3 separate regions of the Homo sapiens genome follow, and all the other regions are reported to be linked to region 3. Evidence: microRNA targets listed by miRTarBase, many of them from high-throughput screens and not tested one by one. Region 3 holds a microRNA gene; each other region holds the end of a gene's coding sequence. Distances are between the middles of the regions.

The links. The annotated mature microRNA hsa-miR-4775 reads UUAAUUUUUUGUUUCGGUCACU and lies in region 3 at 1,784-1,805, opposite strand. An mRNA with a match to its seed (bases 2 to 7 or 8) in the 3' UTR can be bound and repressed. Matches are read on the target gene's strand: a 7mer-m8 pairs with bases 2 to 8, a 7mer-A1 pairs with bases 2 to 7 and ends in A, and an 8mer does both.
Region 1: miRTarBase lists NPFFR1 as a target of hsa-miR-4775. The part of its 3' UTR that is shown has no 7-base or 8-base seed match.
Region 2: miRTarBase lists ARPC2 as a target of hsa-miR-4775. The part of its 3' UTR that is shown has no 7-base or 8-base seed match.

Annotation. Positions count from the first base shown.
Region 1 is chr10:70,251,105-70,255,171 of GRCh38, forward strand. NPFFR1 (neuropeptide FF receptor 1) reads right to left here. Exons shown (of 4, transcript NM_022146.5): 4 at 1-4,067. The coding sequence ends at 3,853. Among named protein-coding and RNA genes, the nearest start is that of PPA1, 20 kb to the left of the region's middle.
Region 2 is chr2:218,253,178-218,257,244 of GRCh38, reverse strand. It overlaps ARPC2 (actin related protein 2/3 complex subunit 2), which reads right to left. Exons shown (of 11, transcript NM_152862.3): 11 at 2,897-3,354. The coding sequence ends at 3,330. Among named protein-coding and RNA genes, the nearest start is that of GPBAR1, 5.8 kb to the left of the region's middle.
Region 3 is chr2:207,752,553-207,756,620 of GRCh38, reverse strand. MIR4775 (microRNA 4775) reads right to left here and starts at 1,814; the gene lies at 1,740-1,814. It overlaps CCNYL1 (cyclin Y like 1), which reads right to left. Exons shown (of 10, transcript NM_001330218.2): 10 at 447-3,033. The coding sequence ends at 2,923.

The DNA.
Region 1 (4,067 bases), not on the chromosome of region 3:
ATTCAACATTGTTCATTGTAATGAAGCCCATTTAGACCGCCTCCTTCTCATCTATCTTTCATCAGTGACACTTCTGAGGGGTGAGCTGAGGAAACGGGTGCAAAAAGGTACAGAGCTTAATAGCAATCCTTTGTCCATCCAGCTCTGGGCTTGGCTCTCGCCTTGCTTTTTGGATGAATACACAGTAGACTAATGATAGGGGGGCTCTCATCTTCCTTTGCCAACTTCGCCCTCCATTCCAATGCAGATCAGCTCATGAGTCCTCCAGGCCCCAAGAGAGACTCCTCAGCACAGGGCTGGGCAGACTGTGGTTTGTGGGGTGCAGGCCCGGCATCCGCCTCCAGCTCACATTGGTCTGTTGGGTGCTGCCTGGTCTTGGTAAAGTCAAGAGGCCATTCATCAGTGGAGAGCCACAATGAGGGTGACCACTCATGCCGCACATGGCAGGACAGGACACAGAGTCCCTCCAGGAGGCCCTCTGGGTGGGGATGCTCAGTGTCAACAGGCCTCTGGCCCTTTTCCCCCATCACGCATGCCGTTCATCTCCGAACTTGCCGCTTATGAAAGGGCAGTCACCTTAGGAAACCCAGCCAACCTGGAGGTGGAGGATGGCGTGTCAGGAATGGTCCACACCACTTGCCCGTGGGCGCCTAGGCTGCACAAGGCCCCGTCAGGGTCCAGGTGTCAGAACATAGGAATCCAGTGAGGATAATAAATCTATAATTATAAAATAGCTTCATAAAAACATCTTGTAGAGGAAACATACAATTTTCTAGCCACTCTAGTCAGGAAGTAAAGCCCAGCAGAAGCCCAGAGCAGCTGGGGTGGGCACAGGGAAGTGAGACACATCACAGCTGTCCTGGAAGCCTCTGTTTTGTCAGCCATAAAGGGTAAGTTGGGAGAGACCCTGGTTCCCAACCTGGGGTCTCTGTCCTCAGGATTCACACAGGCACTATTGTCAGGAACTACTTCTAGCATCTAAAAACTCCATACATTATTCACAGTAGCCAAAAGATAGAAACAACCTAAGTGTCCACTGATGGATGAATGAACAAAATGAGGACTATCTAGACAATGGGATATTATTCAGCTTTTAAAATGAAAGAAATTCTGACACATGCCACAACATGGATGAACCTTGAAGACATTGTGCTAAGTGAAAGAAGCCAGTCAAAAAGGATAGTATTGTATGATTCCTCTTGTATAGAAGTACCTAGAGTGGCCAAATTCACAGACAGAAAGTAGAATAGTAGTTACCAGGGGCTAGGAGGAGAGGGGATGCGGTGATATTGTTTATAGATACAGAGTTGCAGTTTGGGATAATAAAAAATTCTGAAAATAGATAGTGGTAATGGTTACACAACAATGTGAATATATTTAATTCCAGTCCTGTACACTTAAAAATGGCCAAAATGGTAAATTCTATATTATTTATATTTTACCACATCCACAAAGAAACGAACTCCCCACATACCCACAATGTCTCACTGCTTCATTAAAGCATTGTCATGCCTGTTATCACTCAGATCTGAATGGGCAGGTATAGCCTCTGATTGATTTTTTAGAAGAAACAAAAATAACAGCAAAATATGTTAATTGTAACCTTCAGCGAGAGCTGAAGGAGTTTTTTGGGCAGTTATAACCTTTCAAAGCATGACATCTTTTGGGGGAAGACAAAGGGGCTGTGATGGAAAGGTTGGCTTGAGTGAGTACTTTGGTATCCCTACCCGCCCCCAGCCTCAAATGCTGATCTTGTACTTGGGGAGGCTATGCTAAAGGAGAAACACACCCCAGAGGAGACACCAGGTGGTGTCTTCAGACAATTCCCACCCAGCCATAGGGATAGGCATTTTGGGTTTGAGACGGCCCTTTCTCTGGCTTACTTTTAGAGCCTGGAGTCAGACTTCTTCACAACAAATAGCCCAGAACCAGCTGGGAACTCTCTGGCCCATATGACACATGACACTGATACAGTACCAGAAATGCATGGCACCAGCTAATACCACTGAGGGGCAGGAGGGCATACTCTCTCTCAGACCCTCATCCATCACCCCCAGAACCAGGACAAGGTCATGATGGCTCTTGGCAGCCTGCTCAGCACCAGGGCAAGAACAACTCAGGCTGGACATTACGAGAGTAAACACAATAGATTTCTTTCCCAGACCAAGAGCTTGGGCACCAGGAGTGGGCATTCTGGTTCACTGTTAGGCAAAAAAGCCTTTGGGGAAATTACCAGCTCTCCCGTCATCCCCACCTTCCTTGAAAGGCAGCATGTGGGGTGGGAAGAACAATCAGAAGACAAATTTTAATCTAAATCCTGCCCCTCTGTGGCCCTGGAAACTTGGCCCCTTTGAGCTTCAGTCACTTTGTGAAATGACAATAACATTCAATCTCCTTCAACCTCATTACTATGGATTAAATGAGACGGTGTCTGGGGACATGCTTGGAGAATGTATTGTACAACTGCTTAGGAATTTTCTTCTGCCCCTAAACCTGGAACTTAGAGTGGAGCAAACAGTAAACAGTCACTGTGTGTCGGTTAAGGGAACAGAGCCTCAGAGCCCCGACCCCTGGAAACGTTTCTTTTTTGTTTACTAAATTTCTAGCAACACCGTGTTTTCTACAGAGGTGGGGGGAAATGTCCATTTAAGTGCAAGATGAAGGGGCCTGTGAAAGGACCCTCCAAGGCAATCCCATGTGCTCCCGTCTCCTGGAAAGAAGCCACATTTCTTCAAGTTGATGCAGGGGTGTTGGGGGAAAGCCAGAGTAAACAGGGCTCTCCTGGTACCTCCTTAGAGTACACAAGTCATTTGTGCTGGGGAAGAGTTTAGTGTGTGTCCTTCAGGAGTCTCCAAATGGCACTCCGGCTGCAGCTTCAGTTGACCAACTTCTCCCTCCCAGGAAGCAGGGAGGAGAGAGACCTTGGGCAAGGCTTTGTACCTGCAGCCCCAGTGAGCAGATGTGTTTCCCAATGTGGAAAATGCATACCGTGCTTCCCCTTCCTCGTTGTCTATGAGTACGTAAAAGGACACCTCCTGTGGCCCTGCAGCATTACAATGTCTGTGGCATTGTAAGTTCTTGCCTTGGTCTGGGAGTCCCTCCTCTGTTCTCTAAGCTCAGACCCAGAGGGCAAGACCTAGAGTGCCCTGCAACTGAGGCAGCCTCCCCAAGGCTCGTTCTGAAGCTGCCGTCCTCTGAGGACAATGGCTTCTTGGAACTTCTTGGAACAAACAAGACAAACCAACACATTAGAGCCGGCAGCGGGGGCACACCGTGTTCTTCTAGAAAAGGATCAAGGGGAGTGGCTTCAGTAACGGAACATGAGGGACTCCCTCACATGGACACAAAGCATCAAGGGACAGGCCGGCTTTGCTTTTCGCTTCTTCCTAGCTGCCTAATTAGGACTTACTCAGTTCACAGTGTTCTACCTTACCGGGCCCTCTTGGAGCCAGCTGGAGATGATAAAAACCACACAGGTATTGGAGTCAGATAGCTTCACATGCCATTTCCACCTGAGAAACTTGGGTGAGTCACATCTCTCCAGGCCTCAGTTTTTGCATCTGTAGAAGGAAGAGAAGACAACCTATCTCCAAAGCGTTGTGACAATTCAGTGAGATGATGTTTGTCAAGCCCACCACACAGGGCAAGTTGGTTCCTTCCCGTCCCCCGCATTTGCCTCTACTGAGGGTGAAGGCAGCAGAGAAGACATCACCAGCAGCTGCCCACCACTGCCTGGCTCTGGAGAGGGAGGGACCACGCATCCTCACCTAACCACACCAGGCCGCTATCGCCTGCATGTATCTCGTGTCCAATCGGGGCCCTGAGGCAGCGTCCCGCCCTCCCTGGACCCCCTCAGATATCCCAGGCTGGAATGGTGAGGGGCAGGTGGGAGCAGCCAGGCCCTTCCCTGGGCAAGCCGTGGTGAGCCACCCGCCCATTCCGCAGCGGGAGGCGGCCGGGCCTGGGGGCCCCACTGCTAGGGCCCGACTCAGAGGGCAGCCCGGAGTCGCTGGGCCGCACCACCACGAAGACCCGCCTGTGCAGAAGCCCGCCGGGCCGCTCGGAGT
Region 2 (4,067 bases), 11 Mb from region 3:
AGATGGCGGCACCTGGATTCAAACTGTTCCTCTACAGCCCATATCCAAGGACGCCTACACTTACCAGGTGTGAACCCTTGGGGCACTGGCTTCCTGAGACTAGGAAGAAACAACTAGATCCCTTTTTTCCAGCCCACACCCTCAGTGTGCTTGACCCTCATCCTGAGACATTCCTCCTGCGGTCCTAAGGCCTCGACTGGTCACGATGGGCTGCTTCATCTGTGACGAGGGTCTTTGAGGCTAGATCCATACTAACGCCAAGTGTGTCCTTGTTAAGAGAAGAGTCAATCTGGATACGGGTTTACACCAGTATGGATTTTTCTTTTTTCTGGGACAGGGTCTCACTCTGTTGCCCAGGCTGGAGTGGAGTGGCACGACACAGCTCATTGCAGCCTTGACCTTCAGGGCTCAAGCAATCCTCCTGCCTCAGCCTCTTGAGTAGCTGGGACCACAGGCATGCACCACCACATCCAGCCGATTTTTATTTTTTGTAGAGGCAGGGTCTTGCCATGTTGTCCAGGCTGCACTACACATTTATTTATTTTTGAGACAGAGTTTCGCTCTTGTTGTCCAGGCTGGAGTGCAATGGCGTATCTTGGCTCACTGCAACCTCCGCCTCCTGGGTTCAAGTGATTCTCCTGCCTCCGCCTCCCGAGTAGCTGGGATTACAGGCACCCGCCACCATGCCCAGCTAATTTTTTTTTAGTAGAGATGGGGTTTCACCATGTTGGCCAGGCTGGTCTCAAACTCCTGACCTCAGGTGATCCACCCGCATTGGCCTCCCAAAGTGCTGGGATTACAGGCGTGAGCCACCGTGCCCAGCCAGATTTATTTTTATAGAGATGGAGAAGGAGTCTCACCGTTACCCAGGCTGGTCTCAAACTCCCGGGATCAAGCAATCCTCCTTCCTCATCCTCACAAAGTGCTACGATTACAGGTGTGAGCCACTGTGCTCAGCCTGCACTATGGATTTTTAATGTTGACAGTGTCTTGGAACTAGTTACTTCCTTAGGATTTACTGCTGTAGAAAATATTTATGCCTTTTCATTTTTCTCCTAACTCCATATCTTCTAAGCAACCTTGGTTCTGTCACCTACAGTACTTACCAGAAATCGGATTCCTACTACTGGCAAAAGAGTACAGTGAGCTCCAACATTAGTTATGTTCTACTAAGGAAGAAAGCAAAAACTCAGCTGGACATAGTGGCAGGTGCCTGTAGTTCCAGCTACTCCGGAGGTCAGGAGCTTGAGTACAGCCTCGGCAACACAGTGAGACCCTGTCTCTAAAAACTAAAATTAAAACAAAAAAAGAGCAAAAACTGCTTCTAGTCAAAATTACACTTGAAAACCCCTTAAATAACTCATGGGGTAGAGAATGCATATGTTGCTGTCAATATATCCAATTAATCTAGGTTTTCCAAGTACCAGAAGTAAGTGGTCAGGGGCACCCTGAGCAGCCAATTAGAAATCAGAGTACCTTGAGCTCTCTAGCAGCCCATTTTAGTGAAATAAAATCAAGTCTGATGACTGAACGACCTGTGGTTTTCAAAATTCTCCACTGTGACTCACAGTCAAGAGACATTTCTACAATCCAGTCATGATGTGCATATGTAACTAAAATACGTTTCCACATCAACACTTACCCTTAACAGATGTAATGCACTCTGATACTATTCAATTGCTTAAAAATGCTGGCGTCACACAAAGCTACACGTATGATAAAAATGCACAGATGTACATCTCATACAGTGCACGTAAATCCGGCCAAATCTGAAGGTGTGTGGACTATACTAATGATTTTTTCTTGGCTGTGATGTTATACAACAATTATACAAGATGTTAGCATGGTGGGGGAACCAAGTGGAAGGTATACAGGATCTCTCTGTATTGTTTCTTACAACCGTATTTAAATCTACAGTTATCTCAAAATCAAAAGTTTAGAAAACAAAAATGCTTGTTGTGATATAGTCACACCACAATTAATGGGTCCCAAGCCAGTATGAAACACTGCCATAGATGGAAGGCAGAAACCATTAGAATGACCATCAGACCGTTGCAGGTGCCCCTAAAATTCTCCTCTTAATTCCTTACACCAAGCAAACTTTCTGAAGCAATTTCATTTCAGGGACCAGAGTCCTGCTGGGGGACAGCTGCTCTACTAGGCTCTGTACTGTTTTTGACAACTGCTCTCCCTGAGAGCAGTCTTTTGGGCTGCCATGTGAGAAAGACAAACTGTGGCCAATTAGTCTGCATCAGACCCACACCTGAATACTCATCAATGTCCTGCAGGACCACACACTAAGGAACACATTTTGGGAAATTCCACACATTATTCACAATAAAAAGATAAACCAGAAAACCCTTTAATTTCTCTGTCATTGACCAGGGAGCTTCAGGAGCAGCCACAGAGTCTCAGGGACCAAGCTTTATAAGGAAGCATGTAAGTTTGTATTAATAGCTCGCTGGGTTCCATAGCTCATGCCTATAATCCCAGCACTTTGAGAGGCTGAAGCAAGCAAACTGCCTGAGTCCAGGAGTTTGAGACCAGCCTGGGCAAGATGGCGAAACCTCATCTCTACTAAAAATAAAAAAAATTAGCCAGGCATAGTGGTATGCGCCTGTAATCCCAGCTATTTGGGAGGCTGAGGTGGGATGATCACCCGAGCCCAGGAGGTAATGACCCTGTCTCTCAGGGGGAAAAAAAAAAAGTTTAAATATAGCTCACTGGCCAGCCATTCTCTCCTCTAGGGAAGGTGAGGATCTAAACCTGATGGGCTCCTGAAACTAGGGCTTCCCAGCTTAGGTTTGCAGGTTCAAGGGTAGTATAGGTCTATCCTTCTTCCTTCCTTCTCTTCTCACTTTGGACTCGCAGTCCAGAAACCCAGCAAATTCTCATGTAAGATAGAAAGATTTTCTTTATTAATGACCCCAACCGTATTTCTTTAGATACAGGAGTTTTGAACTCAAATACTTAGGAGAAAACAAGTTATGACTGCATTATCCTGCAACTCATTACCAGTAATATATTGCAAAGCGAAACAGCTTGGAAAAGAGGGTGGGAGAAAAGGGAAGTGAGGGAGGGAAGATAAAGAAAAGGAATTAAGTTGATCAAGTGGAATTCTTTTTTTTTTTTTTTTAATTCTTGGGAACTATGAAGTCTTTGCAAGCACAGCTCGTTTCTGCAGATTATTTTCCAAACGTGTACAAAATGGAACCAAAACGGAGAATCCCTTAAGAACCTGAAGAGGCGCAACATTAAAAGCTACGATTATCCAGTAGCAAGTGTTCCAGCCTTCAGTTGCCAGCCGCTTCCTCCTCTTATTCCCAAGATTAGCGGGATGAAAACGTCTTCCCCCTTCAAAAGGAGAGATAAGTGCGAAGGTCAGTTTCTGGCTGCCCTTTCCTCCCACCCCACACTCCTAGACTAGATGGGATCCCAAAGAAACACCAAATGAGAGGTGGAAAGGGCTAGATTCCTTAAGCAGAGGCACTGGAACCACAGGACATCGGCTAAAATCTGGCTTTCACAGAATGGTTTCACGAGCTCTTCCTTCCTATTGGATACTTTGGATGCCCGGGAATATCAGTGTTAAGCCCACAAGGACATTCAACGTACCAAGTTAGATAGAAGAATCACTTGTTCACAATTTCTGGATGGCCTAGACGTACCTGAATTTCCGACTAGGCTCAAACCGTCTTCTTAGTACTACCTCATTTGTCAGCTCCTCCTACACAGTGTATACCTCTCAGGGCTCCCAGATAGCAGTTCCTTTATCTCTCACCATGAAGGCAGGTGGCTGGTTCAGAGCAATCCTCAGAACTTCCAAGGCTAAAGGTATTTCTGCTATCACGTGGTGACTCCTCCTCTGGCTTATACAACACCTGCCTGGTTCGAGGCTCCTGAATTGTGGTGTCCTGTTCCACCCAGTATTTCTCCAGATGGGCTAGGTGGTTCTCAAGGACAGAGCCTCTAACTGGTACCTAACAGTATCTGGGAAAGCAGCCTGGAAGCTAGAGCTGAGAACTATGGGAAATCAGGGCAAAAACATGGGCTCTAGATTTTCCCTG
Region 3 (4,068 bases):
GTGGCTTAAGACATCCTCTCAACAGCAACACAAATTCTAGTTCCTGTCTTTCCATTCTCTTTCCTGTTTGTCTGAAAACCTCAAATACCTCTTGTTCTAATTCTACGCTATTCCTTTAATTCCTTTCTCTTTGATACATTTTGCTTAATTTTATATTCTAATGTGCTTTTCCCTCTCAGACACGATAACCAACTATTCAAGATGCCATCTAATGCACTATGCCATTAAGTATTGTGGTCAGTGATTTTAAGTGTAATAAATTATCTTCAGGTTGAAAAGAGCATATGCAAAAGAAATGGATCACTACATCTTAACTAGAGGCATGGATCAAATCAACTTATGGTTGGTTTGAAAATGCTTTAAGACATATCAGGATTGACTTAAAACTAGGCTGGGCAGAGATGTAACACTATGTGGATAGAAGTGTTACAAACACACTAGCCATATTTTAATTAAAATAGAGTTTATTAGCTTTTAATATAAACATGAGAAATAAAAACCACATAAATTGTAGCATTCTTTTCAAAATAAAACTGCAATCAATACTTGAATCTCCAAACTCTGAATTCCATAAACAATATTTGTTTTTTTGAGGTGGTAGATTGTAATATTTGTATACCATTATTTATCATTTATGTCTCTGTCCTTTAAAAATGATGGAAACTGCAGCACAATATGATGTGAAGCATTGCTATAATAGAGGAAGTACTCCTGTCCCAGAAATGCTTTGTTTATAAGCAAGATTCCTAGGATTAGATTTGAGAAAGTAGGAGAAACAGATTTCACATAGTTGAGAACACTAACCTCTTCTTAGTATTTCAAATTTAGGTGACATTATCGGTCTCCTAAAATTATTTGCTCCTTGCCTTTTAAAGCCTGAAGAGTTCCTAAGGGTTATGTAAGTATTTCTTAAATAGCAGGACTTAATGGGACACCTACAGCTTGGTAGCATGTAGGATGATAAAACAGCTGTTCATATCACCTTCTATAATTAGGGTCCAATTCCTTTTATTACATGTTAATTAACACTGCTCTTCAAAATCTTCCTTTAAAGAAACTGCGGTAATCAAAGCATATAGAGCACAGCTCTGCGGGTAACTACTTTTAAAAAGAGGGCATTTTATGGAGATACAAGGTATTCCAAAAGTTCAGTGTAATTTTAAGCTTTGATACTTGTAGAAATATAAATGCTACAAACCTTTACAAAACCTTGTCTGAACATTTTTCTTCTGCTTTTTTCTTTGAGACAGGGTCTGGATGTCGCCCAGGTTGGAGAGCAGTGACATGATCATGGCCCACTGCAGCCTTGACCTCCTGGGCTCTACTGATCCTCCCACCTTAGCCTCCAGAGTGGCTGGGACTACAGACACATGCCACCATATCCAACTATTTTTATTATTTTTTTTTACAGGCAGGGTCTCACTATGTTGCCTAGACTGGTCTTGAACTCCTGCACTCAAGCAATCCTTCCACCTCAGCCTCCCAGGGTACTGAGATTACAGGCATGAATCACTATGCCCAGCCCATTTCTTTTGCATTTAATTTTGCATTTTTCTAAGAGATGGGGTCTTGATAACGTTGTCCAGGTTGGAGTGTAGTAGCTATTCCTATAGGCACCATCATGGTACACTGCAGCCTCCAATACTTGACCTCAAGCAATCCTCCAGCCTCAGCCTCCCAAGTAGCTGGGACTATAGGCGTGCACCACCACACCCAGCTTCATTTTGCAAATTTTGAATATAAAGCTTTTAATTTTTTGTTTCAGTCAATGTCTGCTATCAAGAGTGACCGAAACAAAAAATTAAAAGCTTAATATTCAGGAGACAGGTGCCAGTTGCACTTGTAGTCCCAGCTACTTGTGTGGCTGAGGCTAGAGGATGGCTTGAGACCAGGAAGTTCTAGGCTGCAGTGAGTGCACAATGATTGCACCTGTGAAAAGCCACTGCACTCCAGCCTGGACAACGCAGTAAGACCCCCATCTCTTTAAAAACAAACAAAACAAAACAAAAAACTTTCAAATCATGTTTTTTAAAGGTTTATAGCATTTATACTCATGCTGCAGTGCCTTGGAGGGCCCAAACTATATTCAAGCTTAAAACTGCTTCACTTTTTCTCATCGTCACTGAACCACCATGTTGGTTGGCATTATGAAAATATCTTTTAATACATTTATTTAGCAAGAGAAAAATTATCAGAAAATGAGAAGCACCATTTATAGTTCACAAGAAATGCAACATGGACTCCAATAGAAGTAGATATCAATAACTGATACTTCCTCTGTTTATGACCCCAAACATGCTAAAATGCTAAAGTAATGCTTGCAAAGAATATGAATGACAAATGTTATCCAGCAGCTTTTTGGTTTAAAATGATTGCCAATGACTAGCAGCTTCAATGGTAACAGTAGGGAGGAAGAACCCTTCAGTACCTAACAACGCTGCTGTCTGCTCCTAAGTGGCTTTAGTTAGAGTCCCATGTTTTAATGGTAATACTGCATTGATTTTAAAGGCATATGCAGCAAAATGCGGGGGGAGGGAGAGAAACTGGAAGAAACATAAAAGTTATATGGTTAGTGTCTTTAAAGTCTAAAAATTTAAACTATTGTTTAAAAAACCTTACATAGTTCACAGCTATCGGCCCACACAGTAAGCAAATATCTGTGTGTAGGATGGGAGCCTTCACTTTGGAGTGGTTTTTGTAACTCTGTTTACATTAAAAAGGACAGAAGAGTGTTTTGTTGCATTGACAAGGTCCCATTCTTTCCTGTGGAGTATAATCCTTGTTGTCCATGAGTCTCTTGAATTTGAGATCTTTCCTTTTGATGAAAACACTAATTTTGCTGGTTTTTGAGCAGGAAAGGTGGTATTTCTCCAGTCTTTGTAGATGAAGGTCCCATGACGTTATAACCCCTCATTTCTCCTTTTAAGAGAGGATGGCTTTAGAGCGCTGAATACCAATGAAGTTATCAGCACTGAAAGACCTTCTCATAGCGGCTCTACACAAGTCTTTGTCTTCACACAATCTAGAAATAGCCTAGGAAAGTCAATCAAATAGAAAACAGGTACAATTTTAAAAAGGGTTCCCGCCTTTGAAAGAGCACCATTGTGAAAGCCACACATGTGGACTCCTTTAGATAGTTCACAGTTACAGCTACTTTGGCTGAGTTTTACACTGCCAGGTTGTGGGGACACTACTTCCTGACAGTTCACCAAGGTAATATCCTTTAAGGGCTATGGTTAGATTCCCAGAGAACAAAGGGGAATTTATTATATTATTAAAAAACTGGATTCCCAAAGATATCAAAGGTATTGTGATAGGGCTCCTAACAGCAATAGCATCTGTTATCTGTTAACTTATTCCTTAAATATAACAAACGTACACTTGTGCAAAAAAATGTTTATTCAGCTATTCAAATTCTACCCAATCCTTATTAGCTATTATATACTCAAAGCACATTTTAATGAGGCAGGTGTGTGCTGGACTATACTGGAACATATGAGCGGTCTGATGACTGACGCGCCAAAAGGTATTACTTCACATGCACGTTAATTATGGTAGAAATACATATTATTATTTTTTTCTTTTTTTTTTTTGAGGCAGAGTTTCGCTCGTTGCCCAGGCTGGAGTGATCTCAGCTCATTGCAACCTCTATCTCCCAGGTTCAAGCGATTCTCCTGCCTCAGCCTCCCAAGTAGCTAGGATTACAGGCATGTGCCACCATACCCAGCTAATTTTTTGTATTTTTAGTAGAGACAGGGTTTCACCATGTTGGCCAGGCTGGTCTCAAACTCCTGACCTCAGGTGATCCCGCCTGCCTCGGCCTCCCAAAGTGCTGGGAGGAATGAGCCTCTGAGGCATGAGCCACTCTCAGGCATGTGCCACTGAGCCCAGCCTAGAAATACATATTATTCTAAAGTACCACCAAGGTACCACAGAAAGTGTTAGTTTAAAATATGTGTCCATTTCAGTTGTAATTCTGCTGTATACTCACCAAGAGTCATAAGCCATAAATATTACTTTGCCCCATAAAGTTACCATTTCTATTAAAAACCCATGTACTTCCTACAT